6 linked regions of the Homo sapiens genome follow. The protein of the gene in region 4 purifies or fractionates together with the protein of the main gene of each other region. This does not show direct contact. Each region holds a gene or a part of one and is shown on either strand. Other genes may lie near its edges. The genes, in order: SLFN11, MRPL45, GMPS, SPDYE4, CTSB and HBS1L.

Region 1 (5,602 bases), about 27 Mb from region 4:
AGGTTTTAATATGACTCCCTCTCCTCTGCAACTATGGAGTTAATGACTACCTTCTTCCTGTGGCAGTGGAGGAGGGGGGGCTCCTGCTACTCCCAGCAATGGGGCATTTTGAGATTCAGGTACTTTGAAAGTAGAAAGGGGAGGAGGAGAACCAACATTTCTCAAGCAGCTACAATGAGCCAAACATTTTATGTTATTTCATTTATTCCTCCTCATAGGAAATGTGCTATTCTTAGTTTTGTTTTACAGATGAGACAGCAAAGTCTTAGGCTAAGGAATTTCCCAAGGTTATAAGTTGTAAAAAACACATGGGTTTAGATGAAGTATACCAGATATTCCAAGGGTTCTTTTCCTTTATAACTATAATATAATAATATTTATAAAATAGTATTTGAAACTTCTATAAGTAATCATTTAGTTAATCAATTAGTTAATTATAATTAGTCATCTTAATCAATAGGGTTATTTCTCTTCCTCTAATTTATCATTCTTTTCACATACAGTCCCACCAGGATATTTGCGATATACTCCAGAGTCACTCTGGAGGGACCTGATCTCAGAGCACAGAGGACTAGAGGAGTTAATAAATAAGCAAATGCAACCTTTCTTTCGGGGAATTTTGATCTTCTCTAGAAGTTGGGCTGTGGACCTGAACTTGCAGGAGAAGCCAGGAGTCATCTGTGATGCTCTGCTGATAGCACAGAACAGCACCCCCATTCTCTACACCATTCTCAGGGAGCAAGATGCAGAGGGCCAGGACTACTGCACTCGCACCGCCTTTACTTTGAAGCAGAAGCTAGTGAACATGGGGGGCTACACCGGGAAGGTGTGTGTCAGGGCCAAGGTCCTCTGCCTGAGTCCTGAGAGCAGCGCAGAGGCCTTGGAGGCTGCAGTGTCTCCGATGGATTACCCTGCGTCCTATAGCCTTGCAGGCACCCAGCACATGGAAGCCCTGCTGCAGTCCCTCGTGATTGTCTTACTCGGCTTCAGGTCTCTCTTGAGTGACCAGCTCGGCTGTGAGGTTTTAAATCTGCTCACAGCCCAGCAGTATGAGATATTCTCCAGAAGCCTCCGCAAGAACAGAGAGTTGTTTGTCCACGGCTTACCTGGCTCAGGGAAGACCATCATGGCCATGAAGATCATGGAGAAGATCAGGAATGTGTTTCACTGTGAGGCACACAGAATTCTCTACGTTTGTGAAAACCAGCCTCTGAGGAACTTTATCAGGTAAGCAGTTGGATCTTACGTCTCTAAGTATTATTTAATCTGGGTTTAATTTTTTCTGCTAAGTCACCGTCTTTCTTGAGAATTGAGTGGTAAAATGATCTGTGGTAATGTACTGTGCTCGGAGGAACATGATACAATTATTTTCTCCCCTTGTTTTTTTAGAGAAAACCTGAGTGTGTTCTTTTAATTTTTACAGTGATAGAAATATCTGCCGAGCAGAGACCCGGAAAACTTTCCTAAGAGAAAACTTTGAACACATTCAACACATCGTCATTGACGAAGCTCAGAATTTCCGTACTGAAGATGGGGACTGGTATGGGAAGGCAAAAAGCATCACTCGGAGAGCAAAGGGTGGCCCAGGAATTCTCTGGATCTTTCTGGATTACTTTCAGACCAGCCACTTGGATTGCAGTGGCCTCCCTCCTCTCTCAGACCAATATCCAAGAGAAGAGCTCACCAGAATAGTTCGCAATGCAGATCCAATAGCCAAGTACTTACAAAAAGAAATGCAAGTAATTAGAAGTAATCCTTCATTTAACATCCCCACTGGGTGCCTCGAGGTATTTCCTGAAGCCGAATGGTCCCAGGGTGTTCAGGGAACCTTACGAATTAAGAAATACTTGACTGTGGAGCAAATAATGACCTGTGTGGCAGACACGTGCAGGCGCTTCTTTGATAGGGGCTATTCTCCAAAGGATGTTGCTGTGCTTGTCAGCACCGCAAAAGAAGTGGAGCACTATAAGTATGAGCTCTTGAAAGCAATGAGGAAGAAAAGGGTGGTGCAGCTCAGTGATGCATGTGATATGTTGGGTGATCACATTGTGTTGGACAGTGTTCGGCGATTCTCAGGCCTGGAAAGGAGCATAGTGTTTGGGATCCATCCAAGGACAGCTGACCCAGCTATCTTACCCAATGTTCTGATCTGTCTGGCTTCCAGGGCAAAACAACACCTGTATATTTTTCCGTGGGGTGGCCATTAGGAAGAACTCCAAATCAAAATGCTATGTAAATGTCTATGGGTGACAGTCTGCTGATGGTAGAAACCTTTCTTTTTAGTTCACAAGTCAGAGATTTGGACGGAGCTGACACAAAGAGTTTGGAGCTCCCCCATTTCTGGCTCTCCTTTCAGGGGTTCCTTCCCCAACCCTTTCAGCAGCGGTGGCTGCCCCCCATTCTGACCCCTGACTCTTCCAGCCAGAAAGATGGTGGTTTTCTAAAGGAACTTTAGCTGTCCTGCACAATGCCGATCTGTGTCTTGCATTTTGGGTAAAAGCCATAAAAATAAGAAACTCAGCCTGTGGCCTTTCTTTCTTCCAAGGCTGGGCTTCTTTTTTTAAGTGACTTCATGCAGTTTGTTGCTTTTAAAAATTTGTCCAGAATCGTTTTCTGCAGAAGCATGGTCTGTTAGGAGCTTACTGGCCGTAGCAGAAGCAATTGTTTCCTGAATTCTTGACATTTATCTTTGCTGTATTCATTTAGGGCTTGGGAGAGTCCGAAGATAATTCAGTCACTGTCAGATTAATAATTTTGTCAGGACAAAGAATACCGTTATGATTATTTAATCCTTTAAAATTGTGGTCTCCAGAGCTTGTTCTCAGAATGGCCCAGACCAAGCCTTAATTGTGATAGTGAATATTAATGGTCACTTTAAGGAGAAATTATAGGCCAAGATGAAATGAACATAAACCTGTTTGCCCTGGCTTTCAGTGGAAGATGATATTAGAGACCAAAATCTGGTTCTGAAGGTGTGTATCAGCCCTAAGGTGAACCAGACTTGGGAAAGATTGTCTTTAAAAATCAATGAGTTTATGTTTTAACTTCTCAGCTTAGTTCTATGCATTGCTCTATAACACACCTAGTTAAGTTTTATGTTATTCTTGAACTGTGATTTTTTTTCTATTTACTTTCATGGTTTGGTGGGCCATTGTTATGGACTGAATGTTTGTGTCCCACCCTTCACCCCCAAATTCCCGTGTTGAAGCCCCAACCTGCACTGTGGAGCTGGGGCTGCTAAGGAAGTAATTAAGGTTACATGAAGTCATGGTGGGGCTCTGATCTGCTAAGGTTGGTGTCCTTATAGGGAGAGACCCCAGAGAGCTTGTTCCCTCCCTCCCTGTGCATGCAAACAAGAGGGCATGGGAGCACACAGAGAGATGGCAGCCACCTACAAGCCAAGAGGAGAAGCCTCACAATCAAACTCTCGCTGCTGGCGAGAGTCTTGGACTCTGTCTTGGACTTCCAGCCTCCAGACTGTGAGAAACAAATTTCTGTTGTTTCAGCTTCTCAGTCTCTGGTGTTTTGTTATTGCAGCCTGAGAACACAGCTGTACGATTATTTGTCAAACAGAAAACACTGATACTTAACAATGCTAATGCAATTATTTATTTGCTTTTCAGTCTCTACAAAACGTTCTAAAACACTAATCTAAATATTAACAGTAAAATATTTGCATAACTAATGGAAACTAAGAAATCATATGACCAATATTTCACTTATTGGTAATCTTACTCTACTGATTTCCCCCCAGACTGTGATTTTTGAACTTCCTTGCCTTTCTCCTGTCTTTCTGTGTTTATTCATGGAATTCCAGTTATCTGGGCTTGAAATTGCAGGCTCTCCTAACTTAAGCAAAATCTGACAGATCAGCAAAATGAGATAAATGTTTCTTTTTTCTTTCTGACTGCATTAAATCAGATACAACTCAGCATTAAAAAGCTATCTTTGTAAATGTTGTTACTAATAAATTAGTCTTATAAGATCCCTGGACTTTGGAGTTGTTGCAATGTCTTTGAGAGTAATTCTTTAAAAGTCTAATTTCGACTGGTTGTATCTCTTTATGATTTATTGCCCCACTAACAATATTTGAAACAATATAATATTTTAAAATGTATAAATAATTATGAATTTTTGTTTAGAACAAAGAGGATTACTGATATTTGTTTCCCTATGAATGGCAAAAGGTTTAGCTTACTACTGCATTTCTGTTTTAAATAAAAAGTTGAGAGTTTGTGTCTCATTAAACTGAAAAAAATGGTCTTGTAAAATAAGTGCTTAAATGGGGGAAAAGGAGAAGACTGAGGCCAGTGACTCTGTGAGAGGGCCAAAACGAGCCAGTAAAAGATTAAGCAACATTAACTTTCAATTTTTTTTTTAAGAGACAAGATCTCACTATGTTGCCCAGGTTGGAATGCAGTAGTGCAATCATAGCTCACTATAGCCTCGAACTCCTGGGCTCAAGTGATCCTCCTGCCTCAGCCTCCGAAATTGCTGGGATTATAGGCATGAGCCAGTGCACTAGACTCAGTTGGGTTTGGATGGGTGCCTGCCCATCTCTGCAATCTGCCTCTAGACATCTGGGACCTACTTCACTAAAGATCTGAAAATCTACCCAGCCATTATAAAATGAAACAAAATGTTTTTATATTTTAAATTAACTTTTTATTTTAGAGTAGTTATAGAATTACAGAAAAAGTTACAAAGATAGTACAGAAAGTTCCTGTGTCCCCTTCATTTAGTTTCCTCTTTATTTTATTTTATTTTATTTTATTTTATTTTATTTTATTTTATTTTATTTTATTTTGACAAGGTCTTGCTCTCTCACCCAGGTTGGAGTACAGTTGGGTGATCACAGCTCACTGCAGCCTTTAACTCCTGGACTCCAGTGATCCTCTCACCCCAACTAGCTGAGAAGCTGGAACTGCAGGTGCATGCCACTACACCTGGCTATTTTTTTAAAAAAATTTTGTAGAGGACGGGGTCTTATTATGTTGCCCAGGCTGGTCTCAAACTCCCAGGCTCAAGCATTCCTCCTGCGTGGGCTTCCTACAGTGCTGGGATTACAAGTGTGAGCCATTGCAGTGGCTATTTCCCTGTTTTATTACTGTATTGTTGTGATGCATTCATCACAACTAAGGAACCAACCTTACTTAGTACATGACTATTAACTAAACCCCACATTTTATTTGGATTCTCCAGTTTTTTTTTTTTTTTTTTTTTTTTTTTTGAGACGGAGTCTTGCTCTGTCGCCCAGGCTGGAGTGCAGTGGCATGATCTCGGCTCACTGCAAGCTCTGCCTCCGGGGTTCACGCCATTCTCCTGCCTCAGCCTCCCGAGTAGCTGGGACTACAGGCGCCCGTCACCACACCTGGCTAATTTTTTGTATTTTTTTAGTAGAGACCGGGTTTCACCGTATTAGCCAGGATGGTCTCGATCTCCTGACCTTGTGATCCGCCCTCCTCGGCCTCCCAAAGTGCTGGGATTACAGGCATGAACCACTGCACCCGGCCTGGATTCTCTAGTTTTTCTCTAATGTCTTTGCCTACTCCAGGATCCCATCCAGGACACCATACTACATTTAGTGGTCATGTTTCCTTAC
Region 2 (5,693 bases), about 30 Mb from region 4:
GGTTGCAGTGAGCTGAGATCCTGCCACTGCACTCCAGCCTGGGTGACAGAGCGAGACTTCGTCTCAAAAAAAAAAAAAAGGAAGTTACGGCCGGGCGCAGTGACTCAGGTCTGTAATCCCAGCACTTTGGGAGGCCAAGGTGGGCTGATCACAAGGTCAGGAGTTCGAGACTGGCCTGGCCAATATGGTGAAACCCTGTCTTTACTAAAAATACAAAAATTAGCTGGGCGTGGTGGCAGGCGCCCGTAGTCCCAGCTACTCAGGAGACTGAGGCAGGAAAATTGTTTGAACCCAAGAGGCAGAGGTTGTAGTAAGTCAAGATCGCGCCACTGCAATCCAGCCTGGGCGAAAGAGTGAGACTCCGTCTCAAAAAAAAAATAAAATAAAAAGTAATTACAAAGACAACAGAGCAGTGCTTTTATTATTCATTCACTCATTCATTCATTCATTCACTGAGACAGGGTCTCACTCTGTCACCCAGGCTAGAGTACAGTGACGCCATCAGGGCTCACTGCAGCCTTGACCTCTGGGACTCATGCAATCCTCCCACTTCAGACTCCCAAGTAACTGGAACTGCAGGTGTGCACTACCACGCTTGGCTAATTTTCACTTTTTTTTAGTTTTTGTAGAGACAAGGTCTCACTGTGTTGCCCAGCTGGTATTCAACTCCTGCTCAAGTGATCCTCCTGCCTCAGCCTCCCAAAGTGTTGAGATTACAGGCATGACCCACCATGCCCAGACTTTGAGCAGTACTTTTAATTGAGGAAAAAATTATTTCTATCACAGAATTAAATACCTGGGCAAATTATAAATGAAGTGGGAGAATAAAATATTTCTTTTTAGACTTGCAAGATCTTATTTATCCACCATGCAGCCTTTCTCAGGCAGCTGCTAGAAAATGTGCTCCACCAAAGTAATGAAATAGACTATGAAAACATAAAGACATAGGATCCAAGCAACAGGGAATACAACGTAAGAGGGAGGCAATCAGCCTGACCAACATGGTGAAACCCCATTTCTACTAAAAATACAAAAATTAGCTGGGCGTGGTGGCGCACACCTGTAATCCCAGCTACTCAGGAGACTGAGGCAGGAGAATCGCTTGAACCCGGGAGGCGGAAGTTGCAGTGAGCTGAGATCGCACCACTGCACTCCAGCCTGGGCAACAGAGCAAGACTCAGTCTCAAAAAAAAAAGAAAAGAAGACGGAGGCAAGAGGAATCTTAGATCCTAAGACGTACAGTTGGCCTTAAGAGCAACTAGTCCAGATTAAAACAGGTAAGAAGACTCCAGGAGGGATTTCTTGAAAAAGATGAAATTAATAAAATATTTAATGTTGCAGGGCGTGGTGGCTCACACCTGTAATCCTAGCACTTTGGGAGGCTGAGGCAGGTAGATAATGAGGTCAGGAGTTCGAGACCAGCCTGGCCAATATGGTGAAACCCCGTCTGTACTAAAAATACAAAACAGCCAGGTGTGGTGGCACACACCTGTAGTCCCACCTACTGGGGAGGCTAACACAGAAGAATTGCTTGAACCCAGGAGGCAGAGGTTGCAGTGAGCCAAGATCATACCATTGCACTCCAGCCTGGGCAACAGAGTGAGACTCCCTCTCAAAAAAAAAAAAAAAAAAAAAAAAATTTAATGTTTTGAATGCACAGAGAGGAAATTACATAACCCATAGTTCCATAAGCAAATGAGCAAATTAAGACACTACACTTCAGGAAAAAAAAATATATTATGCAGGAAAGAAAAAGTGTTCATAATGTACTATATAACTCAGCTGTCAACAGCATTTTCCAAGTTATAACAATATAGAGAATTTGATTTAATCAAAGTATTAATTTAAGTGTGTTAAAGGAATTTATCCCAGGGATGTGAGGTTGGTTTAATATTTGAAAATCAATTAATAAGGCTGGGCACGGTGCCTCACGCCTGTAATGCCAGCACTTTGGGAGGTCAGGAAGGTGGATCACCTGAGGTCAGGAGTCCAGGCTGGCTAACATGGTGAAACCCTGTCTCTACTAAAAATACAAAAATCAGTGGGGCATGGTGGCGCACACCTGTAGTCTCAGCTACTCGGGAGGCTGAGGCAGGAGAATCACTTGAACCTGGGAGGCAGAGGCTGCAGTGGGCCGAGATGGAGCCACTGCACTCCAGCCTGGGTAACAGAGCAAGACTCCATCTCAAAAAAAAAGAAGAAAAGAAAAGAAAATCAATTAATATGTCATCATATCAACAGAATAAAGAACAAGTATCACATGATCATCTCAATAGACACAAAAAAGCATTTGACAAAATCTGACACCCCTTTATACTCTTTTAACCTCAAAGCCTTGCTTGTACTGTTCTGTTTCCCTAGAATGCTATTCCTCACCACACTTCTCCACCTGGCTAACTCTAAAAAAAAAAAAAAAAAACAAACTTTTTTTTTTTTTTTTTTTGAGATGGAGTCTCACTCTGTTGCCCAGGCTGGAATGCAGTGGTGCAATCTGGGCTCACTGCAACCTCCACCTCCTGGGTTCAACCGATTCTCCTGCCTCAGCCTTCCGAGTAGCTGAGATTACAGGTATGTGCCACCATGCTTGGCTAAATTTTGTATCTTTAGTAGAGATGGGATCTCACCATGTTGGCCAGGCTGGTCTCGAACTCCCGACCTCTCAGGTGATCCACCAGCCTTGGCTTCCCAAAGTGCTGGGATTACAGTTGTGAGCCACCTCATCCAGCCACAATCCCAACTTTAAATATCATTTCCTCAGGCAAGTCTTCTCTGATCTCCCAGACCAAGTTATCTTTTTTTTTTTTTTTTTTTTTGAGACGGAGTCTTGCTCTGTCGCCCAGGCTGGAGTGCAGTGGTGCAATCTCGGCTCACTGCAAGCTCTGCCTCCTGAGTTCACACCATTCTCCGGCCTCAGCCTCCTGAGTAGCTGGGACTACAGGCGCCCACCACCGCACCTGGCTAATTTTTTGTATTTTTAGTAGAGACGGGGTTTCCCTGTGTTAGCCAGGATGGTCTCGATCTCCTGACCTCGTGATCCACCCGCCTCGTCATCCCAAAGCGCTGGGATTACAGGCGTGAGCCACCTCGCCCGGCCATTATCTTTCCCTGTCATATGCTCCCATGGCACTCCTACTTCACTACACCTATAATTATTTGTGTGCGATCAGTATTTAATGACTGTTTTCCTCCCCTAGAAGAGAACTGCATGGTAAAACCGTATGTGCTTTGTTCATCATCACCATGGACCCTGCTCACAGTCCAGGAGAGAAATACATGAGAGGAAACATTGCAGTACAGAGTATTAGGAGAAATAAATACAAGTGTGCAATTACAATCACAGCAAAGGCAGCACCAAAAATAGTCATGGAGGCCTTAGAAACAAACATGATAGCCCAGCGTGGTGGCTCACGCCTGTAATCCCAGCACTTTGGGAGGCCTGAGTCTGGCGGATCACCTGAGGTCGGGAGTTCAAGACCAGCCTGACCAACATGGAGAAACCCCATCTCTATTAAAAATACAAAATTAGCCAGACGTGGTGGCACATGCCTGTAATCCCAGCTACTCGGGAGCTGAGGCAGGAGAATCGCTTCAACCCAGAAGGCAGAGGTTGTGGTGAGCCGAGATTGCACCACTGCACTCCAGCCTGGGCAACAAGAGTAAAACTCCATCTCAAAAAAAGAAGAAAAAAAAAGTAGGAGGGGAAAAAGACATTTCAGGCAAAGGAAAGGATGTGCAAAGACAAAGAGGAATGGTACAGTACTGGCAAGGAATTGGCAATTAGTTTGGAAATGCTAAAATTTAGGATGAGAAAAATGGAATAAGGACAAAGAATGATGGTGGAGAAAAAGGCAAGGACCAGATTATAAAAGCTTTGTATACCACTGAAGATATCTGGATTTTATTCTTTGGTTAACAGGAAGCCATAAAAGAGTTCTAAGCAGGGAGGTAATATGATAAAATCTTTTTTATTATTATTTTTTTTTGAGACAGAGTTTCGCCCTTGTTGCCCAGGCTGGAGTGCAATGGCACGATCTCGGCTCACCGCAACCTCCGCCTCCCGGGTTCAAGCGATTCTCCTGCCTCAGCCTCCTGAGTAGCTGGGATTACAGGCATGTGCCACCACGCCCGGCTAATTTTGCATTTTTAGTAGAGATGAGGTTTCTCCATGTTGGTCGGGCTGGTTTTCGATTCCTGACCTCAGGTGATCCGCCCACCTCAGCCTCCCAAAGTGCTGGGATTACAGACGTGAGCCACCGCACCCAGCCAATAAAATCTATATGTAGAGAAATAAGTCATGGCCATGTGAAGAATTCATACTGACTCAATATACTTATGCACATAAACCTATACATGATTTACATATAGTGACAGCGGCTACTCTGGGCACAGTGGCCTATGGGGTAGCCCTGCTCTGCAATGAACAGTACAAATTTAAAAAAAAAGATAGATACAGTCAGAGCTAGACTGGCTGGGTGTGACGGGTCACACCTGTAATCCCAGAATTTTGGGAGGCTGAGGTGGGAGGACTGCTTGAGCCCAGGAGTTCGAGACCAGCCTGGGCAACATAGTGATAACCCGTCTCTACAAAAATTTCTTTTAAAAATTAGCCAGGTCGGCTGGGCGCAGTGGCTCACGCCTGTAATCCCAGCACTTCAGGAGGCTGAGGTGGGTGGATCACGAGGTCAAGAGATCGAGACCATCTTGGCCAACATGGTGAAACCCCGTCTTTACTAAAAATACAAAAATTAGCTGGGCGTGGTGGCATGCGTCTGTAGTCCAGCTACTCGGGAGGCTGAGGCAGGAGAATCTCTTGAACCCGGGAGGCAGAGGTTGCAGTGAGTTAAGAGTGAAACTCCGTCTCAAAATAAATAAATAAATAAATAAATAAAGGGCTGGGCGTGGTGGCTCTCACCTGTAATCCCAGCACTTTGGGAGGCCAAGGCGGGCCTCCTGAGGTCAGGAGTTCAAGACCAGCCTGACCAACAGACCAACATGGAGAAACCACATCTCTACTAAAAATACAAAATTAGCCGGGCATGGTGGCACATGCCTGTAATCCCAGCTACTCAGGAGGCTGAGGCAGGAGGATCATTTGAATCCAGGAGGCGGAGGTTGCGGTGAGCCAAGATCGTGCCATTGCATTCTAGTCTGGGCAACAAGAGCGAAACTCCATCTCAAAAAAAAAAAAATTAAATATATGATTAAAAAAGGATCCTATACACTCCAAAGTCAACTCCCTAACTGATATGACAAAAATTACCAATAAAGGCAGGGATGCTGAGAATCAGGAAGCCCACATTATTCTGCATTAAATACAGACTCTAGTACAAAGGAGAAAATACCATCATGTTATTAAGAGAATGACACCCAACCCAATTAACCCAAAAAGGTCTCTTTGGGATAAAGTAGCAACAAAAAATTGTTATTCTAATACCAATACCCAATTGTCTCAGACACCTACGACACTTGTGATGCCATAGTCTTCTTCATTCGTTCAGTTCTCTCTATCAGTCCCTCCTTTGAAAGAGATGATATGCGTGCATCACCCTCAGGAGGAACATAGGCATCAAATATACCAGCTGTAATAAAGGAAGAAAAAAATTAAGAAAGTGTTGAAAGATTGAGAAAAACTCATAAAATTGAAGTAATGTAAAATTGGGAAGGATTGTGGATATGAAGTAGACTAATGAAAC
Region 3 (5,693 bases), on a different chromosome or scaffold from region 4:
GAAGATGTTTCTACCACCAGCTTAAGTAACATTTAAAAAACTAATATCAAGCCAGGAGCAGTGGCTCACGCCTGTAACCCCAGCACTTTGGGAAGCCAAGGAGGGCAGATCACCTAAGGTTGGGAGTTTGAGACCAGCCTGACCAACATGGAGAAACCCTGTCTGTACTAAAAATACAAAATTAGCCGGGCATGGTGGCACACGCCTGTAATCCCAGCTACTTGGGAGGCTGAAGCAGGAGAATCGCTTGAACCCGGGATGCAGAGGTTGTGGTGAGCCGAGATCATGCCATTGCATTCCGCCCTGGGCAACAATAGCAAAACTCCGTCTCAAAAAAAAAAAAAAAAAAAAAAAAACTAATATCAAAGCATCCATAGCAGGCTCTTAATTATTAACATACTTTGTCAAAACATCACATTGTACCCCATAAATATATACAATAAATATTAATAACATATTTTGATTCTGCCTTTGCTAACAGAAATACATAAGAATGTAAGTAAAACTGTACCAAATGTCTATAATTATGGTCATCTCTCGGTGACTTTGTCTTTATGATAAACATTACACTGATTCTTTGGCTTTAGACATTAAAATACAAACGCACACTTATTTTTTTCTTTTTAATAAGAGGGTAACTAATGAAGGAAAGACATCAGAGAAAAGAAACCACTGAGAAGCACTATTAACCTCTAGAGAGCCAGACGTGGTTAACCCAAGATGTACCACCTTAGGCAAGATAATATGCCTAACAGACAAACCGACAGAGATTTTCTTAATAACTGAAAAAAGTTTTAACTTAAAAATACTGCACCAATACCAAGTTTGCATTTTTTAAAAACAACTTTGTTAAATCCAGAGTGCTTCTGATTCTATTTATTGTTCAAGGGAATGTTGTGAGTGACAGAAATGTTCTATATCTTGATTGGGGTGATGGTTACATGAGTACATATATATGTCAAAACTCAACTACATACTTAAAGATCTATGCACTTCACTGCATGTACATTTTACCACAATAAAAACAAGCAAAACAAAACACCTATTAGTGAGTTTTTTAAACTACCACCTCTCTCCACAAACTGACACTAAAGATACAAAACTGATACAAAAAGATACTACCACAATGAGCAACTGTTACCCTCAGCCTTCAGGGGCACTCATGGTCAAGCTCTGCCATGGTCAATAACAAGGCCAACAATCATCCAAATCTAAGAGCCAGTCTGTTAAAAAACCCTAAGTCAGATTAAACCCACCTTAGAAAAGATACAAAAATTATCTCAAAATGAAACAAAGACATAAATAAGAGCAAAAACTACAAAACTTTTATAAGAAAACATAGGTAATTACACAAATCTTTGTGATATGTATTGAATGAGGCCAACAGTTTTTTAGATGACACCAAAAACAAAAGTGACAAAAGAAGAAATAAATTAAGCCTCAAAATTAAAGGTTTTGGTGCTTCAAAGAACACCATTAAGAAAGTGTAAAAAGATAATCTACAGAATGGCAGAAAATAATCGCAAATCATATTGATAAGAAACATCTCTAGACTTAAAAAAAAAAAACTCTTAAAACTCAATAAAAAAGAAAAATAATCCAATTTTAAAATGGGCAAAAGAATTAGCTGGGCATGGTGGCAGGCGCCTGAAATCCCAGCTACTCAGGAGGCTGAGGCAGGAGAATTGCTTGAACCCAGGAGGTGGAGGTTGCAGTGAGCTGAGATCACACCACTGCACTCCAGCCCGGGGAACAGTGCGAGACTCCGCCTCAAAAAAAAAAAAAAAAAAGGGCAAAAAAGACCTGAACAGACATTTCTCCAAAGAAAATACAGAAATGGCCAATAAGCACATGAAAAAATGCACATAACCAGTCATTAGGGAAATGCAAATCATAGCCAAAATGAGATCCCACTTCACAGCTACTCTGATGGCTATAATCAAAAAGACAAGTGGGTCAGGCGTGGTAGCTCATGCCTGTAATCCCAGCACTTTGAGAGGCCAAGGCAGGCAGATCACCTGAGATCAGGAGTTCGAGGCCAGCCTGACCAACGTGGGAAAACTTCAACTCTACTAAAAGTACAAAAATTAGCCAGTGTGGTGGCGCATGCCTGTAATCCCAGCTACTTGGGAGGCTGAGGTGGGAGAATCGTTTGAACTGGGGAGGTGGAGGTTGCAGTGAGCTGAGATAGCACCACTGCAGTCCAGCCTGGGCGACAGAGACTCTGTCTCAGGAAAAAAAAAAAAAAAAAAAAAGACAAGTGCAGAAAAGGATGTGGAGAAATTGTGATGGCTAATTTCAGGTACGAACTTGACCAGACTAATAATACCCAGATAGCTAGTAAAGGATTATTTCTGGGTATGTCTCTGAGGGTGTTTCCAGGAGAGACTGGCATTTGAATCAGTAGACACAGAAAGGAAGATCCACCCTCATCCAATGTGAGCAGGCATTATCCAATAGCTGAGGCTAGGGCAGAACAAAGTCAAGGCAGGGGAAAGTCAAATTATCTCCCTTCTGGAGCTAGGACACCTTCTGCCCTTGTATATAAGAATTTCAGGATATGGCCTTCGGATTCCAGGACTTGCACCAGCAGCCACTCTCCCATCACCCTCCCCCCATCCCTCTCCCACCAAGGTTCTCAGGCCTTCAGACTCACACTGAGAATTACACCATGGACTCCCGATTCTCAGGTCTTTGGACTTACACTAAGTAATGCTACCAGCTTGGTAGGTTCTCCAGCCTGCAGACAGTCTATCGTGGGACTTCTCAGCCTCCATAATCGCGTCAGCCAATTCCCCTAACAAATTTCCTCTCATATATCTCTCTATATATATATCTATTATCTATTTCTCTATCTATAGCCTACTGTTTTTCTGGAGAATCCTGACATAAACTGCCACACAGCAGACAAAAATATAAAATGTTGCAGCTGCTTTGGAAAACAGTCTGACAGTTCACTAAAAGGTTAAACGGAGTCACTCTATGACCCAGAAATTCCACTCCTAGGTTTATACTCAAGAGCATGAAAACTTTTGTCTAGATAAAAACTTATACAGAAATGTCCATGGCAGCATTATTCATAATATTCAGAGTGAAAACAACCCAATGTTCATCAACTGATAAGTGGATAAATATAAGGTGGTATACATACAATGGAATATTAGCAGGTAATAAAAAGGAATAAAGTACTTATACATGCTACAAGATGAACCTTGAAAGCATTATGCTAAGTGAAAGCCACAAAACACCATATATTTTAAGATTCTAGTCACAAAATGTCCAAAATAGGTGCTACGGTCTGAATGTTTGTGTCCCCCTAAAATTCATATGTTGAAACCTAATCACCAATGTGATAATATTAAGAGGTGAGGTCTTTGGGAGGTGGTTAGAGCATGAGGGCAGAGCCCACACGGATAGGATTAGTACCCTTATAAAAGAGGCCCTAGGGGCTGGGCACGGTGGCTCATGCCTGTAATTCTAACACTTTGGGAGGCCAAGGCAGGCGGATCACCTGAGGTCAGGAGCTCATGACCAGCCTGGTCAACATAGCAAAACCCCGTTGCTACTAAAAATACAAAAATTAGCTGGGCATGGTGGCGCATGCCCAGCTACTCGGGAGGCTGAAGAAGAAGAATGGCTTGAATCCAGGAGGTGGAGGTTGCAGTGAGCTGAGATCGCGCCACTGTACTAGCGAGACTCTGTCTCAAAAAAAAAAAAAAAAAAGGCCCCAAGGTGAGGACACAGCATCAAGCACTTCTATGACCCAGGAAGTGGGCCCTCACCAGGCACTGAATCTGCAGGTCCCTTGATTTTGAACTTCTCAGCGTTCAGAATTGTGAGAAATTTTTGTTGTTCATAAGCCACTCAGTTTCTGGTATTTTGTTTTAGCGGCCCCAACAGACTAAGACAATTGGCAAATCTACAGACAGAAAATGAATTTGTGGTTGACTAGGACTGGGAGGGAGCGGTGGTTGCAGGAAAATGGGGACCCTTGCTGAAGGGTAGAGGTTTTTTTTTGGGAGGAGGGATGAGAATGTTTTTTTGACTGTACAAATGGGGGGTGATGGTTGTACAAATCTGTGAATACACTAAGAACTATGGGGTTGGATACTTTAAGCAGAGTACATGGTATGTCAATTATATCTCAATAAAGCTGTTATAAAAATTTTTTTAGGAAAAGTAAATGGTAGAATCCAGATTGAGGACATGGATGTTGACTAAAATTTCTTTTAATTTGCTTGCCAAATAATAAGTATAATGAAGTTCTACTGCTACCAATAACATCAAAATAATGATATATCTACAGGTACTTTTGTTCATCTAAAATTTCCCAAATTAATCAGAGATCGTTGATCCAAAATTTGTCCAAAGCAGAATTTTAGAAATCTGGAGTCCTAAATTTACATTCATAATAGGATTCAGAAGAATTACTGAGACTCGTTCTCCAAATTGCAAATGAGGTAGAAATTAAATTTACATGGACCGCTGTGAGTTTTGAGATTAAAAGGTTACTGTTTTTCCAGTGACAAACGGGAGTAACTAAACAGAAAACTTCACATGTCCAGGCAGCTTTAAAGGTTTGGGAAACATCCCTTGCAAGTGTTATGGCAGACTAGAGAAGATTATTTTACCTTAGGGTCAGGTTCAGTGCTGCTGGCTCACACCACTTTTAAAACACAGGTAATTAATGACACTCAGTTTTCAAGAATTTTAGAATAATACTCTTATTATATAATTAACTCAGAAAAATAATGCTAATGTATACACACTAGACTTAAATTTTAGCCAAATTTTAAATACACATCACTGGGGAGAAATCAGAGCCAAACTCAGAACAATATGTGCTCTATAAATGGAGTGACCATATGGTCCAGTCTGCCCAGGACTCTCCTGATGTACATCTGTTAGTCCGATATCCCACCCAGCTTAACATTTGTCTCAGATTTTTCTTTTTAACAACATACTATGAATAACTGCCTTAAAGTAAAATAGGACGGGTTTGTTAAACTTTCACCTTATATCTAATACCACCTTCGGCTATGGCTTTGTCTAGTGTTGTGTGGGTTGCAAGCATAGTAAACAGTTCTCATTTTTAACTTCTCGTTCAGTCTGAATGCCAAATACTGGTAACACATCCTTCCTTACTCTTTTCTAATAAAATCAAGTACTCTTGGACACAGGCAATTAAGGATAGCTAACTCTATCTAGTCTTGGGTGATGACAGGAGAAATATCTGAAGTTGCTATTCCTGCCGGCTACTCAGTGTACCTCCCAGTTGTGTTACAGCCACTCCTCACCTTGCAAGATGCACAGGAGCCTCGAGGCCATTATAAGCTGGGTCACTGGGAAATATGGGGTATTTGTGTAACACATGCAGGAAAGAGATGTTATATGTCCCTGTGTATAATGTACAGAAGACAGTAATCTGAACACTCTTGCCACAGGAGTTTTGCCATTTACTTACTAATTGTATTGTGTAAATCTACAATTTTTTTGTATGTAATATTTTATTTTGCAGCAATTATTATAAATTTAAATTTTCCACACCTTCTTTTTTTATGCTCATGTGCCCCAGTTTAGAGATCTTATTCCCTTTCACATTATAACAATCTTAATGAGTGTATAGACTTAACTATATAATCTCCTAGGTCCTCAAAACCATGAACCTGAAGCCATAGCAAGGGTCCACCAAC
Region 4 (4,790 bases):
AAGAGAAAACATTTACGATAAAAAGAATCCTCTCTTAAAAATGAAAACTAAATTATATTTATGTGTATATAACAACCGTCAGAGAACTCTATAGGAACAGCATGTTTTCAAAACTACAAAAACCCCAAACTATTTTAAATCAACCTAGTAATAATTCTATGGCCAACATTTGAAAAATAAACCAACAAAATGTACAGTATCTATTAAACTATCTCTTAAAATCCTATGGCAGTAATTTCATATTTTACAAAGAATTCCGTAACAATCTGAGTGCCTGCGCTGTGCCTTCAAATGCTCTGGACTGTGGCAACCAAGTCCATAGGAAACAGGAACTCCAGCTTCCAGCCCAGGGGAGGCTGGGATTCAGCAACGTGAAAAGGGAGGTTTTGCCGCAGGAAGGGGTGGAACCAGAAACACCCCTGGTTTCTCACTTTCCCTCCACTGACTCCTAGAAATACCTCCATGGCTCCTAGGAGGAAAACCTGGTCAATCTATTTTGCCCCTTCTAGAAGAGTCCAGCTTCTTCTAGATGATCTGCACAGGAGGCTCCTCTCTCCCTTCCTGGTGTCTGGCATTAGCGTCGCGATAAACTTCCTGCTGAAAATTCCCATCTCCCCTGGGCCCAGTGTTCTGGAAGTGAGAGAGAGGATGTCACACTTCAAGGAGGGAGATCTCTAGATAGGAAGGTTATTCCCATCCCACATCAATCCTAACTAGAGTTCAGAGCAATATATAAATCTGATTTTATCTCTAACCCTTTATTGTAAACCCTGATTCTGAACCATCATTTTTGATTCTGGTACTCACACTTTGGTGAGCTTGACTCCAAAAATCACTTAATATACCCAAGGTTAGCCCCAGTGATCTGCTTCATAGCAAGGACTTTGGGTGGCTCCACCCAGGGAGTAGAGCACCCTTGGAGGACGTGGCTTTGGACTTCATCACACTTGGGGCCCTTTATATTGCTTAAGATCTAAACTTTTAACCATGCTACAAACATGTCTAACACGACAACCTCAGGAACCAGCAGACCAGATTCCTAATCCCCAACCTTAATCTCTCATGTTTTAGTCTAATGCTTGGTCCTAAATGTGGTTAGCTGCACAAGATGTCAACCAAATCTTCACTGAATCCTTTCCTCAAATCAGTAACTCAAGTGTATCAACCATAATGAACCTCCCTGGACCTAGGTAGTATTCTCATTTTTGAGAAAGAGTGTCACTCTGTCGTCCCGGCTGGAGTGCAGTGGCAGAATCACAGCTCACTGCAGCCCCGACCTCCGGGGCTCTGGTGTTCCTTCCGCCTCAGGCTCCTGAGTAGTGGGGACTAGAGGCGCCCACCAGGACGCCCGGCTAATTTTTGTATTTTTGTGGAGACGGGGTGTCGCCATGTTGACCAGGCTTGAAGCTGGATCAAGCAGTTGAGTTCCTTGGATTTTCTTATAGATGAGAATATTCTGCCTTTACCCTGGAGGATACACACGTACCTTCCCTCAGGCCGATGACCTCAGGCCTCCATGTCCCCGGAGCTCTAGGAAATGAGGGTGCGATCTCGGGCCCACACCCAGTGCTCTGGGTCATAAGCCTGGATCTGGAAAAACACACACCACTTGAGAAGCCAGGGATTCCCCAGGAAGCCCCCTCTCTGCCCTCCTCCAGCCTCCAGTCCACCCCATCCCTCCCCACCCCCACCTCCTCATATGGCCCCACCTACCTCCTCCATCTCCTCTGGGGAAACCCACGTCCTCCAGCGCATGGAACAGAGGAGCTGGTATCGAAGCTTATGGAACAAGGGTCGCTGGGAGTAGTTCTTCCCGTAGAGGAAGGAGAAGATGTCTTGTTTCGGGGCCTGGTTGTCCTCCTCCATGTCACTGGCCAGGTAGCTGGGGAGAGAGATCAGGTTGCTGCTCAGGGGCCCCACCAGGAGGGACCCCTGCCTGAGGGCAGCCTCTCAGAGAGGAGGGCAGGGGACCTTCCTCAGCTCAGCACCAACAGCCGCCCTGCAGAGAGCCCTGCCTTCCTCAGGAGGCCCCGCTGGACAGAGACCTGCTAAGGGTGCCTCTCAAACCTTCAGGAAGGAGATGATCCAAGTGGTAGCTGGGAGTGGTGGCTCTTGCTTGGAATCCCAGCACTTTGGGAGTCCAGGCAGGAGGATCACTGGAGGCCAGGAGTTAGGGACCAGTCTGGGTAATATGGCAAGACCCCCTCTGAATTTAAAAACAACCCAAGTCTTATGCTAAGGATGTGTCCTGCCATCCTTATACAAGACAGATGACGTCACCTCATCCTAGTCCCCATCCCTGTTCCTCCCACACCCCCCTTCCTTGTCATGTATGCACACACCTGTCTTCCCCCGTGCATCATAAGTGCCCCCAAGGACAGGAACTGACTGGTGTGTTTCTGTAAATCATCTCTCACCTACCAAAAGGCCACTAGAGGGCTTTGTTTATCTTGGTGCATTAATTCAACAAGCATTGCTGTGAACTCTCCCTTCCCATCCTTCCTATTCCCTGGCACATATGATGAACTTCATAAGGTTTTGTTGAATAAATGAATACATGAATGAATGAAGGAAAGAAGGAAAGATTTATCTTATAGGCAAATGCCATATGAATTATTCCATAGAGTCAATATAACATGAGCACTTGCAAAATGAAAAGAATTGTGCTGAGTGTTTCAGGAATACTTTGATATTTTGGCTGATTGGGTGGCTCATGTCTATAATACCAGCACTCTGAGAGGCTGAGGTGAGAACCCAGGAGTTCCAGAACAGCCTGGGTGACATAGCAAAACGTCATCTCTACTAAAAATCATAAAAACTGGCTAGATGTGGTGGCATGCACCTGTAGTCCCAGCTACTCAGGAGGCTGAGGTGGGAGCTTCACTAGAGCCTAGGAGATGGAGGCTGCGGTGAGCTATGATCTGGCTACTGCACTCCAGCCTGAGGGACAGAGCAAGTCTCTGTCCGGTAAAGATAAAAACAAAAAACTTTGATATTTTGACAAGACCCTGCCTTCAACAGGGGTCTACTCTGATGGGTTTGGGGAAAAGGAGGGCAGATAAACGAATCCAAAATGTCACATTATCCTAGGATGTCACTAAAGTGCTGTGGGCGTGCAGAAGCTGGAAGATCAGGGGAGGCATTGCAAAGGCTGTGGGGTTGAACTGACTTTAAGGAATGGGTCATTCCCTTCAGATCCACATGTGTGCAGGACACCCAGACAGAAAACACAAAATCAAAATGGAGTGGAGGGCATTTGGAAGGAGTGGCGAAAGCAAACAAGGAAAGATGAAGATGGTGGGCAGGTTTGGTGGTAGAAGGACTGCAGAGAGGGTTGAATTAGCCCTGTGGACCCGGGCCTCCGTTTAGAGACAAATCAGCTAAGGAGGTTGTTCAGGTGGGCAGTGAAGGGGGGGTGGGAGCTGTGCTTTGGAAAGCTATTCAGGCAGCACTAGGAAGCCCCCTGGCTTGGGGCAGGACTCGCAGGAATGCCCAGCAGGGAGTATTTGATGATGGATCTGTGTTATGCGAGGACGACCTGAATTTCTGCCTCTGTCATGGGAACCTGGAGAAGGAGGATGGAAAATTGCATTTGGTGTTGATATGGGAAGGAGAGAGACGAGAGAACCAGAAATGGCTGCTTGCTTGGGGAGCAGGGTCGTGTCCACGGCTTTCCTTTCCCCTTAGGACGGGTTTATGTTTCCTTTTGTTTGATTCTACTATTTGTCAACTGCATTTGTGTTTGTTTTTAGAAAGAACAGACTAAGAACACCATAGTATAATCTTATCGTTTTTATATACAGAGTAAAGAGGAGAAGTAGGGTAAAAAAATAGATGGAAGGTTGGAATCCCACTTCGTCCACTGTCCCAGGGTGTTGGATATTGACAGATGGGAAGAAGCAAACTACTCACAGAGCCAGGAAGAAATGAATGCGTTGGTATTGCCACGAGAAGAGGCCGGCACGGCTAAAATACGCTATGACCATAGCCAGGAGATACTGATGGAGAGAAGGGAGTAGAGAGAGAGAAAGGTTGGTCACATCCTGGAAGAGGAAGATGGTGGAGAGAAGGGAACAGGGGCTGGGGCGCGGTTGTCTATCACAGAAGGAACCTCAGTGTTGGGTGACTATGCTCATTGGGGGCTTGCGGGTGGAGAGTGTTCAAAGTCAGCTGCAAATCCGGGAAGTCGGAGGGAGGGAGGTCTGTGATGCTCCCATGATGATGAGCTCCAGTGGGATCACTGGAGGGAGAGTGTCTAGGGCTGCTAATGTCAGGAGGGTCTTGGTGAGCTGGGGCAAAGGACTGTCCCAAAGATCTGAGAGGATAGGGGTCAGGAGTTTCAAGACTGGCCCAGGGCCTGGATTCCAAAGGACCCTGTGCAGAGGCAGGGGCCACCCATCAACTATGCAACAGGCTACCAGAGCCCCGAGGGAGATGCTGACAAATTATGAGAAGACCTAGAATAGCTGGGGGCGGTGACTCACGCCTGGAGTCCCAGCTATTGGAGAGGCCGAGGCGGGAGGATCACTTGAGCCCAGGAGGCTGAGGCTGCAGTGAGCTATGATGGCAACACTGCATTCCAGCCTGGGCAACAGAACGAGACCCTGTTTCTGAAAAAATAAAAATCAAAATGTGGGCGCCCAAGAGTATGGAATCAGCAGGTGGGAGATGGTAGAGGGAGAGAGGAGAGAAACTGTGGGTTTAGACGCTGCACCCTTCCCCAGGACGTGTGTTAAAGCAGGAACACAGTTGAGTGGAGAACAACCTTACCTTGTCTGACACCCTCAGGT
Region 5 (3,968 bases), on a different chromosome or scaffold from region 4:
CTCCTGGAGGACAACCTGCCGTGGCCATTCCCTGGAGTCCCACAGGGCCCCCTCGCCACTTCACTAGCAGGCGACTTCCCTGCACCCGCCCTCCTTTTCATGGTTCCCAGGCCCTCCCACACCTCCCTGTGCTCCCTACTCATTCCCAGGCTCCCCGGGGCCACCGCTGCCAGCCCCAGGGCCCAGCCCATTCCACTAGTCCCAGGCTGAGCGCTGGGAAGTTCTTTCAGCCCCGCACCTTGGCCCAGGGCTGTGGTGTTCCTGGCTTCTCTGCTCCTCCCCTATGGTATCCAGGTTGGGGCTCAAGGGGCCGCCAGCGTGCTGCAACCGGACGATAAAATGAGCCCTGCACTTGGAGTCAGGAGACCTGCATTTGGATCTGGCTCTGCCACTGACTAAATGGCACCCTTGGGGTCTGACCTTCCCCAAGCCTCAGTTTCACCACCTATAAAATGGAGCTAGTAACCATCGTGTCTCAGGTGGCAGTCAAGAATGAAATGAGGAGGACCAAAGCGCCGGCACATGCCTGGCATGCAGTGATAAGGTAGGAAGGGCACTCGCTCCAGCGGGCTCTGTTCCCTCCCTCTCTCCTCTAACACTTCTAGCTCTCAGTTCACACTAAACCTATTCCAATAGGTCCCCAACGCCAGGAAGAGTCTAAATGAAAACAAGTTTGTTTTTTTTGTTTGTTTTAAGACAGGATCTCACTCTGTTGCCCAGGCTGGAGTGCAGTGGCACGATCATGGCTCACTGCAAACTCTGCCTCCTGGGCTCAAGAGATCTGCTCCCCTCAGCCTCCTAAGGAGCTGGGACTACAGGCATACACCACTACGCCCAGCTTTGTATTTTTTGTAGAGATGGGGTTTTGCTATGTTGCCCAGGCTGGTCTCAAACTCCTGGACTCAAGTGATCTGCCCGCCTTGGCCTCCCAAAGTGTCGGGATTATAGGTGTGAGCCACCATGCCCAGTAAAACAAGCTCTTAACTTCAATTAACCCCAGCATTTAACATCCAAAAATGCTTCCACTCTTGAGGGTCCCGAGACTGCTGAGAACTCAAAAAGTGTCAAGCCAAACACAGAGGTCCTGACAGCAGTGGCAATCTCACTCCATTGTGCAACAGGCGCCTTTCTCTCCACAACAACGCAAATCTCAATCACTCTGGACAAATGCAGATGGTGAAAGTGACAAGCTGAGCTGTTAACAGCTTTCCAGGGTCTTTGCATGGGACAGCAACCCATTTTCACTTCCCTTTATATAGGCACCCACTTCCCTTTTATTTCTTAATTCTGTGCTTTCTGCTCTGCTTCTTACAAGAGATGATGAACACAAAGTCCTTATTTCACGAGGGAAGGATGTGAACTCTTGTGTGCCACAAGACCCCTTTCCAGGATGCGGGCTGGTGGAAGAACAGCTGCGAGCAGATGTCATCTCTAGACCTTGGTCTGCTGTGCTGCTTAGGCAGACCTGAGTTCCAGTGCACCCCTCTGCCCCTTTTCCAAGCTAATCTTTGGGTTAAAAAAAACAGAAAAGGGTGCTCCTCATATCCTCTCTCTCCAAACCTGCAGAGCACTTATGAGAAAGCACGCTCCACCCCGGCTCTGTAGAACGTTGTTATGTGCCAAAAAGAGTGTGCGGCCAGGCGACTCTATCAACCAGAGCACCTTCCTCCCCCGGCAAACGGCACCCTAGACTACCTTGAAGCCGTTTCCAGGACAAATAGGGACCTTGCGATCCTGGAAGGAGGTGGAATGAAAGTCAAAGGAGAGGAGGTGCGGCTAAGTCACAGGAGGTGTTAAGTCCTGACACCCTTAAAGAATCAGTTTTGGGCTGCCACCAAGCTCAATAAAGAAGGCTTTCTGGCCAGGCACAGTGGCTCATGCCTGTAATCCCAGCGCTTTGGGAGGTCAAGGCAGGCGGATCACCTGAGGTCAGGAGTTCGAGACCAGCCTGTCTCTACTAAACAAGGTGAAACTCCTGTCTCTACTAAAAATACAAAAATTAGCCAGGCACGGTGGTGGGTGCCTGTAATCCCACCTACTTGGGAGGCTGAGGCAGGAGAATCACTTGAATCCAGGAAGCGGAGGTTGCAGTAAGCTGAGGTCACACCACTGCACTCCAGCCTGGGCAACAGAGCGAGACTCTGTCTCAAAAAAAAAAAAAAAAAAAAAAAAAGGCCGGACACAATGGCTCACGCATGTAATCCCAGCACTTTGGGAGGCTGAGGCAGGCGGATCACGAGGTCAGGAGTTCAAGACCAGCCTGGCCAACATGGTGAAACCCTGTCTCTACTAAAAATACAAAACTCAGCCGGGCATGGTGGTGCTGCCTGTAGTCCCAGCTACTCAGGAAGCTGAGGCAGGAAAATTGCTTGAACCCAGGAGGCAGAGGTTGCAGTGAGCCAAGATCACACCACTGCACTCCAGCCTGGGCGACAGAGCAACACTCTGTCTCAGAGAAAAAAAAAGAAAGAAAAAGCTTTCTTACATGGTCACAGAGCCCTCAGGTAGACTGCACTTTAAATCTGTAAAGGATTTAAGGAGACAGGATATGTACACTTAAAATTTCCAAATAAGCCAAGTTGCTAGCTCCTGGCTGATAGACAAAAAAAGTGAAAGAATTCTTAGCAAAGCTGTCATGCAGTATTTTGCTCTTCCTCATTCGTTGGTGCTGTGGCTATACTGCTGGCTCCTCTCATAGTCAGCTCTAAAGAATTGAAAGTTGGCCGGGCACAGTGGCACACACCTGTAATCCCAGCACTTTGGGAGGCCAAGGAGGTGGATCACCTGAGGTCAGGAGTTCGAGACCAGCCTGGCTAACATGGTGAAATCCCATTTCTACTAAAAATACAAAAAATTAGCCAGGCGTGGTGGTTGTGCACCTATAATCCCAACTACTCGGGAGGCTGAAGCAGGACAATTGCTTGAACCCAGGAGGTGGAGGCTGCAGTGGGCTGAGATCGCACCATTGCACTCCACCTTGGGCAACAAGAGGGAAACTCCGTCTCAAAAAAACAAAACAAAACAAAACAAAAACAAAAGTCAAGTGCTTACATTTTGCCAGAAGCCACAAATGAAGACTGTGCCTTATAGGCCAGCAGAGCGGCTAAGAGCACGGGAACAGTGGAAAGGTGGGGAGACTGTGAAGGCTCAGTAAGACCTTCCCAGAGTACTTTGTTTCTTTCTCTTCTATAAAAACTAGTCTTGGCACTCACCGCTAATAACGGCAGTTGCTCCTGAAGTTTTGACCACTTAAGTGCAACCACAAAACAAGACTTCGGCGAGTTTCATCTTCCCCTACTTCAACCTGCCAGACACACCTCAATGCTGGAGCAGCCCTGCACTGGGTGGGAGTGTGCTGACCTCAACTATGCTCTGTTGTGACCCAGAGACCTTTCCTTTTTGAGTATGAATCACAGCCTTGCTGTGGCCTCTGATGTGTTACGTCTTTGCCCCTAATGGAACTGTGTTTAGTAGATTCTTGGCTTATGATTAAATTAAGGACAAAAACAAAATCCAAAGGGCTCTCAGGCCTCGGTCTCATCAGTCCCCTGATGAACGGGCACCAGAGGCCCATCTGTCCCATGGAGCAGGCTCCCTGCAGCTGTAGCCCCGAAGCAACTGAAAACCTGTCAGAAAACCCACCCAGCACACAGGTGTGCAGAGGCAGCAGTGATGCTCACCAGCCTTGGAGGCTTCCAGGGAACCAGGGGAAGCAGAGAAGCCCCACTCCACCTCCCTCACCTGAACCAGGTTGGCCACTCACAGGTCCTTCCCCGTGCTGCCCACCTGCCAATCATCTATGCAAACCAGGTACTGCAGGCCCAGCCCACGCAAGCTGCTCTCCATAGGCCTGAAGACACCTATGAGTGGAATATTGTACAAGGTCAGCCACAGCAACCCCACATCCTGCAGACAAAATGACTACTGTACACTTGAAACAGCAGACACTACGAAGGCCCTCAGCAGTT
Region 6 (5,693 bases), on a different chromosome or scaffold from region 4:
TGTTACACTGTTCCACATATGACATTTATCAAAAAACTTTTCTCATTGGACAAACATTACAAAAAGAGGCTCTTTTTTAATACTCTATGAGCTTGATATGTTAATAAAGTAAAAAAAAAAAAGTAATTTAGAATTTCTATTTGTTGGTAGTAGATTCAGTCAAGTCTTTCTTTTGGGACAGTACTGGTTAAAGAGCCACAGTAGTACCTAAAAATGTTTAGACAGAACAGTGCTTTCAAGAATCAAGTAAACCAAGCAAAAGCAGTAAGGTTAGAATGGAGGAAGGAGAACCTCTCTGTTGAGTTAAAAGACTGGCTCTCAAGAAGTAGGGTGGTTCTTCCCTGGGGCTTCTGATAAGACTTACACTGATAAAAGATAATACTTTAGAGTTTCTCTGTGTGGAAAGTACAGAGAAGAGGAGGGTAAAGAATGTGAGACTTTCAGAGATGACTAAGGATTTTAGAGGTTACAAGGGAGCCAACCTCAAGGTCTGTGATAACTTTAGGATCATGGTTTTAATTTATGGCTCTTAATCATAAAAAAATTCTTGTTCTCAAAAAAGATCATTAACATACCAAAAAAATCGTGTTTCAAAAGTATTATAGCTCTTGTCACTTTAAAAAACAAAAGCAGAGACCTGTACTTGCACACAATGAACAGATCTATAGAAAATGACACTATTTTTAAAGTGCATATTACTTTTTATCAAAACTGAAATTTCATGATCTCTAGTGGGCACAAATAAAAAGGTCAAATGGAAATAACTGATTTTCATTCCCTTATTCATCTTTAAATATAGGTTAAACCATGTAACTTCAATAGATATTAATTTCTTAAACTTTTCAAGAAATCTTCTTTTAAAGAGAGCATATGAATTCAAGAAAAATATACATTCAAATTGATAAACTAGTCAGGTACAACTCTAGATATAAACTATAAATTAAGAGTAACAGAGGGAAAAATACTAAAATCTAAAAAATTTTTGCATTTCCAATAGGTTATACTTCAGCTTAAAATGGTTACAAATAATATTATTTTATAGTATAAAACAGATCTTCAGAAGTCAGAGGCTTAGTTGGAAGCCAGAATAAAAGAGGTATAGAATTAGAAAGTTTTAGTCAAAATCTGGAAAATAATATACATGTACATGTAACATATAACATGTATACATATACATAAATATATATATGTGTGTATATATTAGAAGACAGAAACAATTATCAGTCATTATGAAAAAAATTAGATCTATATGCAGAAACAGTGACTGGCAATTTAAACTAGTTCAATTTCTCTTTTCAACATTGGGTTTTTCTCCATTTGAATGTTACTTATATCTTCCTATAAAATATACCTACATTTTTGGCATAAACATGATCAAAGCTGTTAATTTATAGTTATTCTGAAACATACATTTCAAAGTAACAGACTGTAGAAGGCTGCTTTGCCACTGACTAGTTAGGGTAAGGCTGGGACTAGATTTAATTTCTGCTACAGAATATTATTCCAAATACATCTGTGAGGTATCTATACATATCTGATTAAATCCTAACCAGGCTTCTCAGATCTGTGTCAAAAATAGAATGCTACTACAGTTAGAATGTTTATGTACATATATATACAGACACAATCACAACAGAAAAAAATCGTTTAATGTTTTCACATTTTAATCTTCAACAGTCAGTATCATTTTGACAGTCAGTTACAATTTCAGTAAGAGGTTACTTACTTTGGAGTTGTAACTAAACCACTTTTTAAAAATCTGCTGTCTCAACTTAAGGCTTGTTTAGCAAAAGCATCTTGCAGATAAATACCTTTCACGGTACAAGTTTCATTAGGAGGCATTGCCAGTAGTCGGTCACCAGTTTGGATATAACCAGCTTCTATTTTACCAGTTATGCAAAATCCAGATCCTTGATCTGCAAAACATACCAAAATCTTATGGTTCATACAGCAATGTTATCTGATGATTAATACCGTTAACTATACTTAGTTCTCAAGTAGTCATATAAAACTAGTAGTTCAATGGACATTAAATAATAATCATTTCAGAATTAACATCTCTACTAAATATGGCATACCACACTTTACTTTTTTTTTTTGCAAATAAAAATACTCATATTACCAAAGAAAGGTTCATTCCTTTCTCAAATATTTATTGAGAAATAATAAATACGTAGTACCAGATATTATACTAAACTCTGGGGATAAAAAAAAATAAAAATGTAAGTCCCTGCCCATAAAGATATTATACTAGTGAAGAGAAAGATGGAAACAATTACATTGTCCTGAGACAAATAATATGTAAAATATACAATAGAAACACAAAGGTGCACCAAAGAATCCATGATGGTGAGAATAGACATCTGGCACTCTGAAGAAGGAATAAGTGTTTATTAGGTAGCTTGTATGCATGAGTAGGGAGAAAAAGGAAGACACTGCTGCCCCAGGAAACTGTGTGGGCAAAGGCATAACCAAATGTGGGATGGGCTAAGAGTCATGTGTCACTTGTGGGGGCCATGGGGAGGGGACCATATAGAATAATGAAGAAAAGGTAAGACAGGAGGCAACAGAGATAGGCAAGGGAGAAATAATAAAGGGGTCTCATAAATCACGCTTAGGGTTTAAATTTCATCCTGCAGTTAAGTAATAGGAAGCCAGTAAATATTGTGACCGGAGAAGTAAGGTGATGGTATTTCTGTCTTAGAGTAGAGGCTGATACAAATGCACAAACTTACTACAGAAAGGGAATAAACTCAAGAATTCGGGAATAAGGAATAACAAGTTTGGAGTGGTAAGGAAAGTGAAGACTAATGACAGAAAGGGGAAAATGTGAGATGATGATGCATTAACTGTGAGATATGAAACTAAGGACAAGATCCATTTTAGGCTTGGTAAATCTGAAGTGTCTATGAGACACACACATGCAGAAGTTGCATTCCGGGGGGACCAATCACACCACATTCCATGAGAATGGTACCCCTAAAAGAACACTCTCCCAGGAGAGATGTCCAGTAGTGCTTAGACAAGTGTGTGGAGAATGAGTGAAAAGGTTTGGGTTGGAGATACAGATTTGGGAAGCATCAAGATGCAGAAGGTAGAGACACTCATGGATGTCAGTTCAAAAGGAACTTGAAGACTAAGAAGAGGACTGAGGCAGCAGAACACTGTTTAAAAGACAGAGAATGAGGAGCCCATAGAGAAGATATAGAGAGGTCAGAGATAGACAGGTCAGAGAAATAGACAGGTTAACAGGAGAAAGCAGGTCACAGAAACCAAGGGAGGAGTTTCAAGGTGGATGTGGCTACCAGCATCAGAACCAATGCCAAATTCAAGTAAGATAGAATTGAAAGTGTATATTGACTTTGGCAACCAAGAGGTCATTTCATGACCTCAGGAGGAACACACTCAGGAGAGCAGCGTAGGCGGAAGCCAGGAAGCAGCCTGAAGGGGGAACAGAAGGTGAGAAAGTACAGTCAGCAAACACTGTTAATCAAAGAAAAGTAACCACCTCTTGTATTCTTGATAAACAATGGGCATCTTGGAAACTATTAGCATATTTCCTCTATTACTAGAACACTGGAAGCTAATAATGATAATGATAAATTTTGATTTCATTGCATGATTTTTTCAAAGCACCTTCATTCATTCATTTTTTTATTCATGTGTTAAATGTATTATGTGCCAGGCACTGGGCTAGGGCCGCAGATATAGATAAAGAAGAGATAGTACTTGCCTTCAAGGAGTTCATAATCTAAGTGGGATAAACAGACAGCATAGAAAAAATTATAATGCTGCATGAAAGCACAATGACAGAGGATACAGAGAATACAGAGGGACGCGTCAGGGCATGTGCGCAGGTAAGCACGCCGGTTACCAATTTACTGCTGCTCAGTTCCACATTCACTCTGCATTGCTGGCTCTGTGACAATGGAGATTTAGAGGACAAATGACATCCTTACAGTTTTTATTATTGTAATAATAAATCTTATATCCTTTTATTTATTGAGTTTTTAAATTGTATTTCCACTTTATAGTCTTCTATATAGGATCTTGCCCTTATTAAGTTAGATATATTCTTAGGTATTTAATATATCATCTCTTCCAGCAAGCTCTGAACCTCTTCTACGTTGGTCCTTCCTCAGCCCTATCTATAAAGTTTCTGTATATCTTTTAGTTGCATTTTTATCATAGTTAATAATTCTTTATATTACATTTCCCATTTCACCTATGTATGGTATCTAACTCCTAACTGGACCCAGACTGTTACAGATGGGGAGGAAATGGACAAGTAAAGAGAAAGAACAATACAACAGGGAAGCACGGGTAGACATGTGGCAATAAACACATCCTGTGTGGTTAAGAAACAATAAACAATCCAGTTTGGTTGAAGGATTTGAAAACTAAAGGAATCTAATGGGAGAAAAAAAAACTATAAAGTTAGAAAGACAAAAGGCAAGGTTTTCTTATGCTTGAAAGATGAGAAATGGTGAGTAAACTGAAGGTTTTCCTGGACAGGGAAGCTAAGTGACTAAATCTGTGCATTTTAAGATTAATCTGACAGTGATCCTTACTTGGGCATGGAGAGGAGAGACTCTGAAGGCAATATACTGTCATAACTTAGTCCAGGAAAGGAGGTTAGGAGGGAATGGGGAAAAGGGGCTATACTGAAGAAGCACTACAAAGGTAGCACTTACCTTTGAAAACATCGGACACACATAATCTAAAAGGTTTGTCAATAGATCGCTGGGGAGGCTTAAAGGAATCTGGAAAAAAGAAATTGCAAAAGGCAAGGTTTAATTTAAAATTAAATTTTTGACTCACTTCAATAAACTCATTATAATCCCACTTCTCCTAGAAAATAACTACTTTTTATAATTACTAATAGCAACTTAACTGTCACTAATATACACATTGAGCATCCCAAATCCAAAATTCTGAAATCTGAAATGCTCCAAAATCTGAAACTTTTTGAGCACTGATATAATGCTCAAAGGAAATGCTCATTGGAGCATTTTGGATTTCAGATTTCTGAATTTGGGCTGTTCAACTAATAAGTATAATGTAAATATTCCAAAATCCAAAAAAAAAATTTCAGACCCCAAACACTTTGGGTCCCAAGCATTTCGGATAAGGGACATTCAACCAAGTAATAGTTGCAGCTTATAAAATGAATGTTAATCTCATTTAATTTTAACAACAGTCTATAAGATATGTAAACCAGGCACTAGCCTCATAAACTGAGGAAAACTGAGCACTAGACAGGTTAAGTATTGCACATGATGACAAAACAGGTAACTTAGTTCCTCCGACTACAAATCCTATGCTTTTTCATACGTGTGACTCTCTCCCATAAAGAACTCTAAATAATAATTAATACCAAGTTTATAATGCATTAAAGCTAGAATGGCAGTATACTTACCAATTTGTTCTAATAAACATAGTCCTTTATACCATTTTGTGAGTTCACTTGACTGAGATCTTGTGATTAGATTTTCACCACTGAGACCACTTGTAGGAATAAAACCTACATCACTCTCCTATTAAAAAGATTGACTTATGAAACTTAATACAACATTTTTTAAAACATTAAAAGATTCACCATTACCATAACTGCACCAAGTTTGCAAAAGCAACAATGTACTTTTTAAAACATAATAGAAATCACAGAACTACAGCCCCAAAGTTATCTGATC

The links.
Region 1: the proteins of SPDYE4 (region 4) and SLFN11 purify together in Homo sapiens (affinity purification with mass spectrometry; one large-scale study listed by BioGRID and IntAct). This does not show direct contact.
Region 2: the proteins of SPDYE4 (region 4) and MRPL45 purify together in Homo sapiens (affinity purification with mass spectrometry, with the first as the bait; one large-scale study listed by BioGRID). This does not show direct contact.
Region 3: the proteins of SPDYE4 (region 4) and GMPS purify together in Homo sapiens (affinity purification with mass spectrometry; one large-scale study listed by BioGRID and IntAct). This does not show direct contact.
Region 5: the proteins of SPDYE4 (region 4) and CTSB purify together in Homo sapiens (affinity purification with mass spectrometry; one large-scale study listed by BioGRID and IntAct). This does not show direct contact.
Region 6: the proteins of SPDYE4 (region 4) and HBS1L purify together in Homo sapiens (affinity purification with mass spectrometry; one large-scale study listed by BioGRID and IntAct). This does not show direct contact.

What each region holds. Positions count from the first base shown.
Region 1 is NC_000017.11:35,348,961-35,354,562, reverse strand, and holds the end of SLFN11 (schlafen family member 11), read left to right. Parts: intron 1-503; coding exon 504-1,227; intron 1,228-1,423; coding exon 1,424-2,207; 3' UTR 2,208-4,258; downstream 4,259-5,602. UniProt on the Homo sapiens protein: Inhibitor of DNA replication that promotes cell death in response to DNA damage. Acts as a guardian of the genome by killing cells with defective replication.
Region 2 is NC_000017.11:38,299,237-38,304,929, reverse strand, and holds part of MRPL45 (large ribosomal subunit protein mL45), read right to left. Parts: intron 5,580-5,693; coding exon 5,462-5,579; intron 1-5,461.
Region 3 is NC_000003.12:155,875,828-155,881,520, reverse strand, and holds part of GMPS (GMP synthase [glutamine-hydrolyzing]), read right to left. Parts: intron 1-5,693. UniProt on the Homo sapiens protein: Catalyzes the conversion of xanthine monophosphate (XMP) to GMP in the presence of glutamine and ATP through an adenyl-XMP intermediate.
Region 4 is NC_000017.11:8,751,608-8,756,397, forward strand, and holds part of SPDYE4 (speedy protein E4), read right to left. Parts: coding exon 4,771-4,790; intron 3,999-4,770; coding exon 3,913-3,998; intron 1,883-3,912; coding exon 1,714-1,882; intron 1,591-1,713; coding exon 1,531-1,590; 3' UTR 1,487-1,530; intron 631-1,486; 3' UTR 1-630.
Region 5 is NC_000008.11:11,857,620-11,861,587, forward strand, and holds part of CTSB (cathepsin B isoform 1 preproprotein), read right to left. Parts: intron 3,861-3,968; exon of another isoform or gene 3,742-3,860; intron 322-3,741; exon of another isoform or gene 239-321; intron 1-238. UniProt on the Homo sapiens protein: Thiol protease which is believed to participate in intracellular degradation and turnover of proteins. Cleaves matrix extracellular phosphoglycoprotein MEPE. Involved in the solubilization of cross-linked TG/thyroglobulin in the thyroid follicle lumen.
Region 6 is NC_000006.12:134,980,647-134,986,339, forward strand, and holds part of HBS1L (HBS1-like protein), read right to left. Parts: intron 5,538-5,693; coding exon 5,420-5,537; intron 4,764-5,419; coding exon 4,695-4,763; intron 1,917-4,694; coding exon 1,812-1,916; intron 1-1,811. UniProt on the Homo sapiens protein: GTPase component of the Pelota-HBS1L complex, a complex that recognizes stalled ribosomes and triggers the No-Go Decay (NGD) pathway.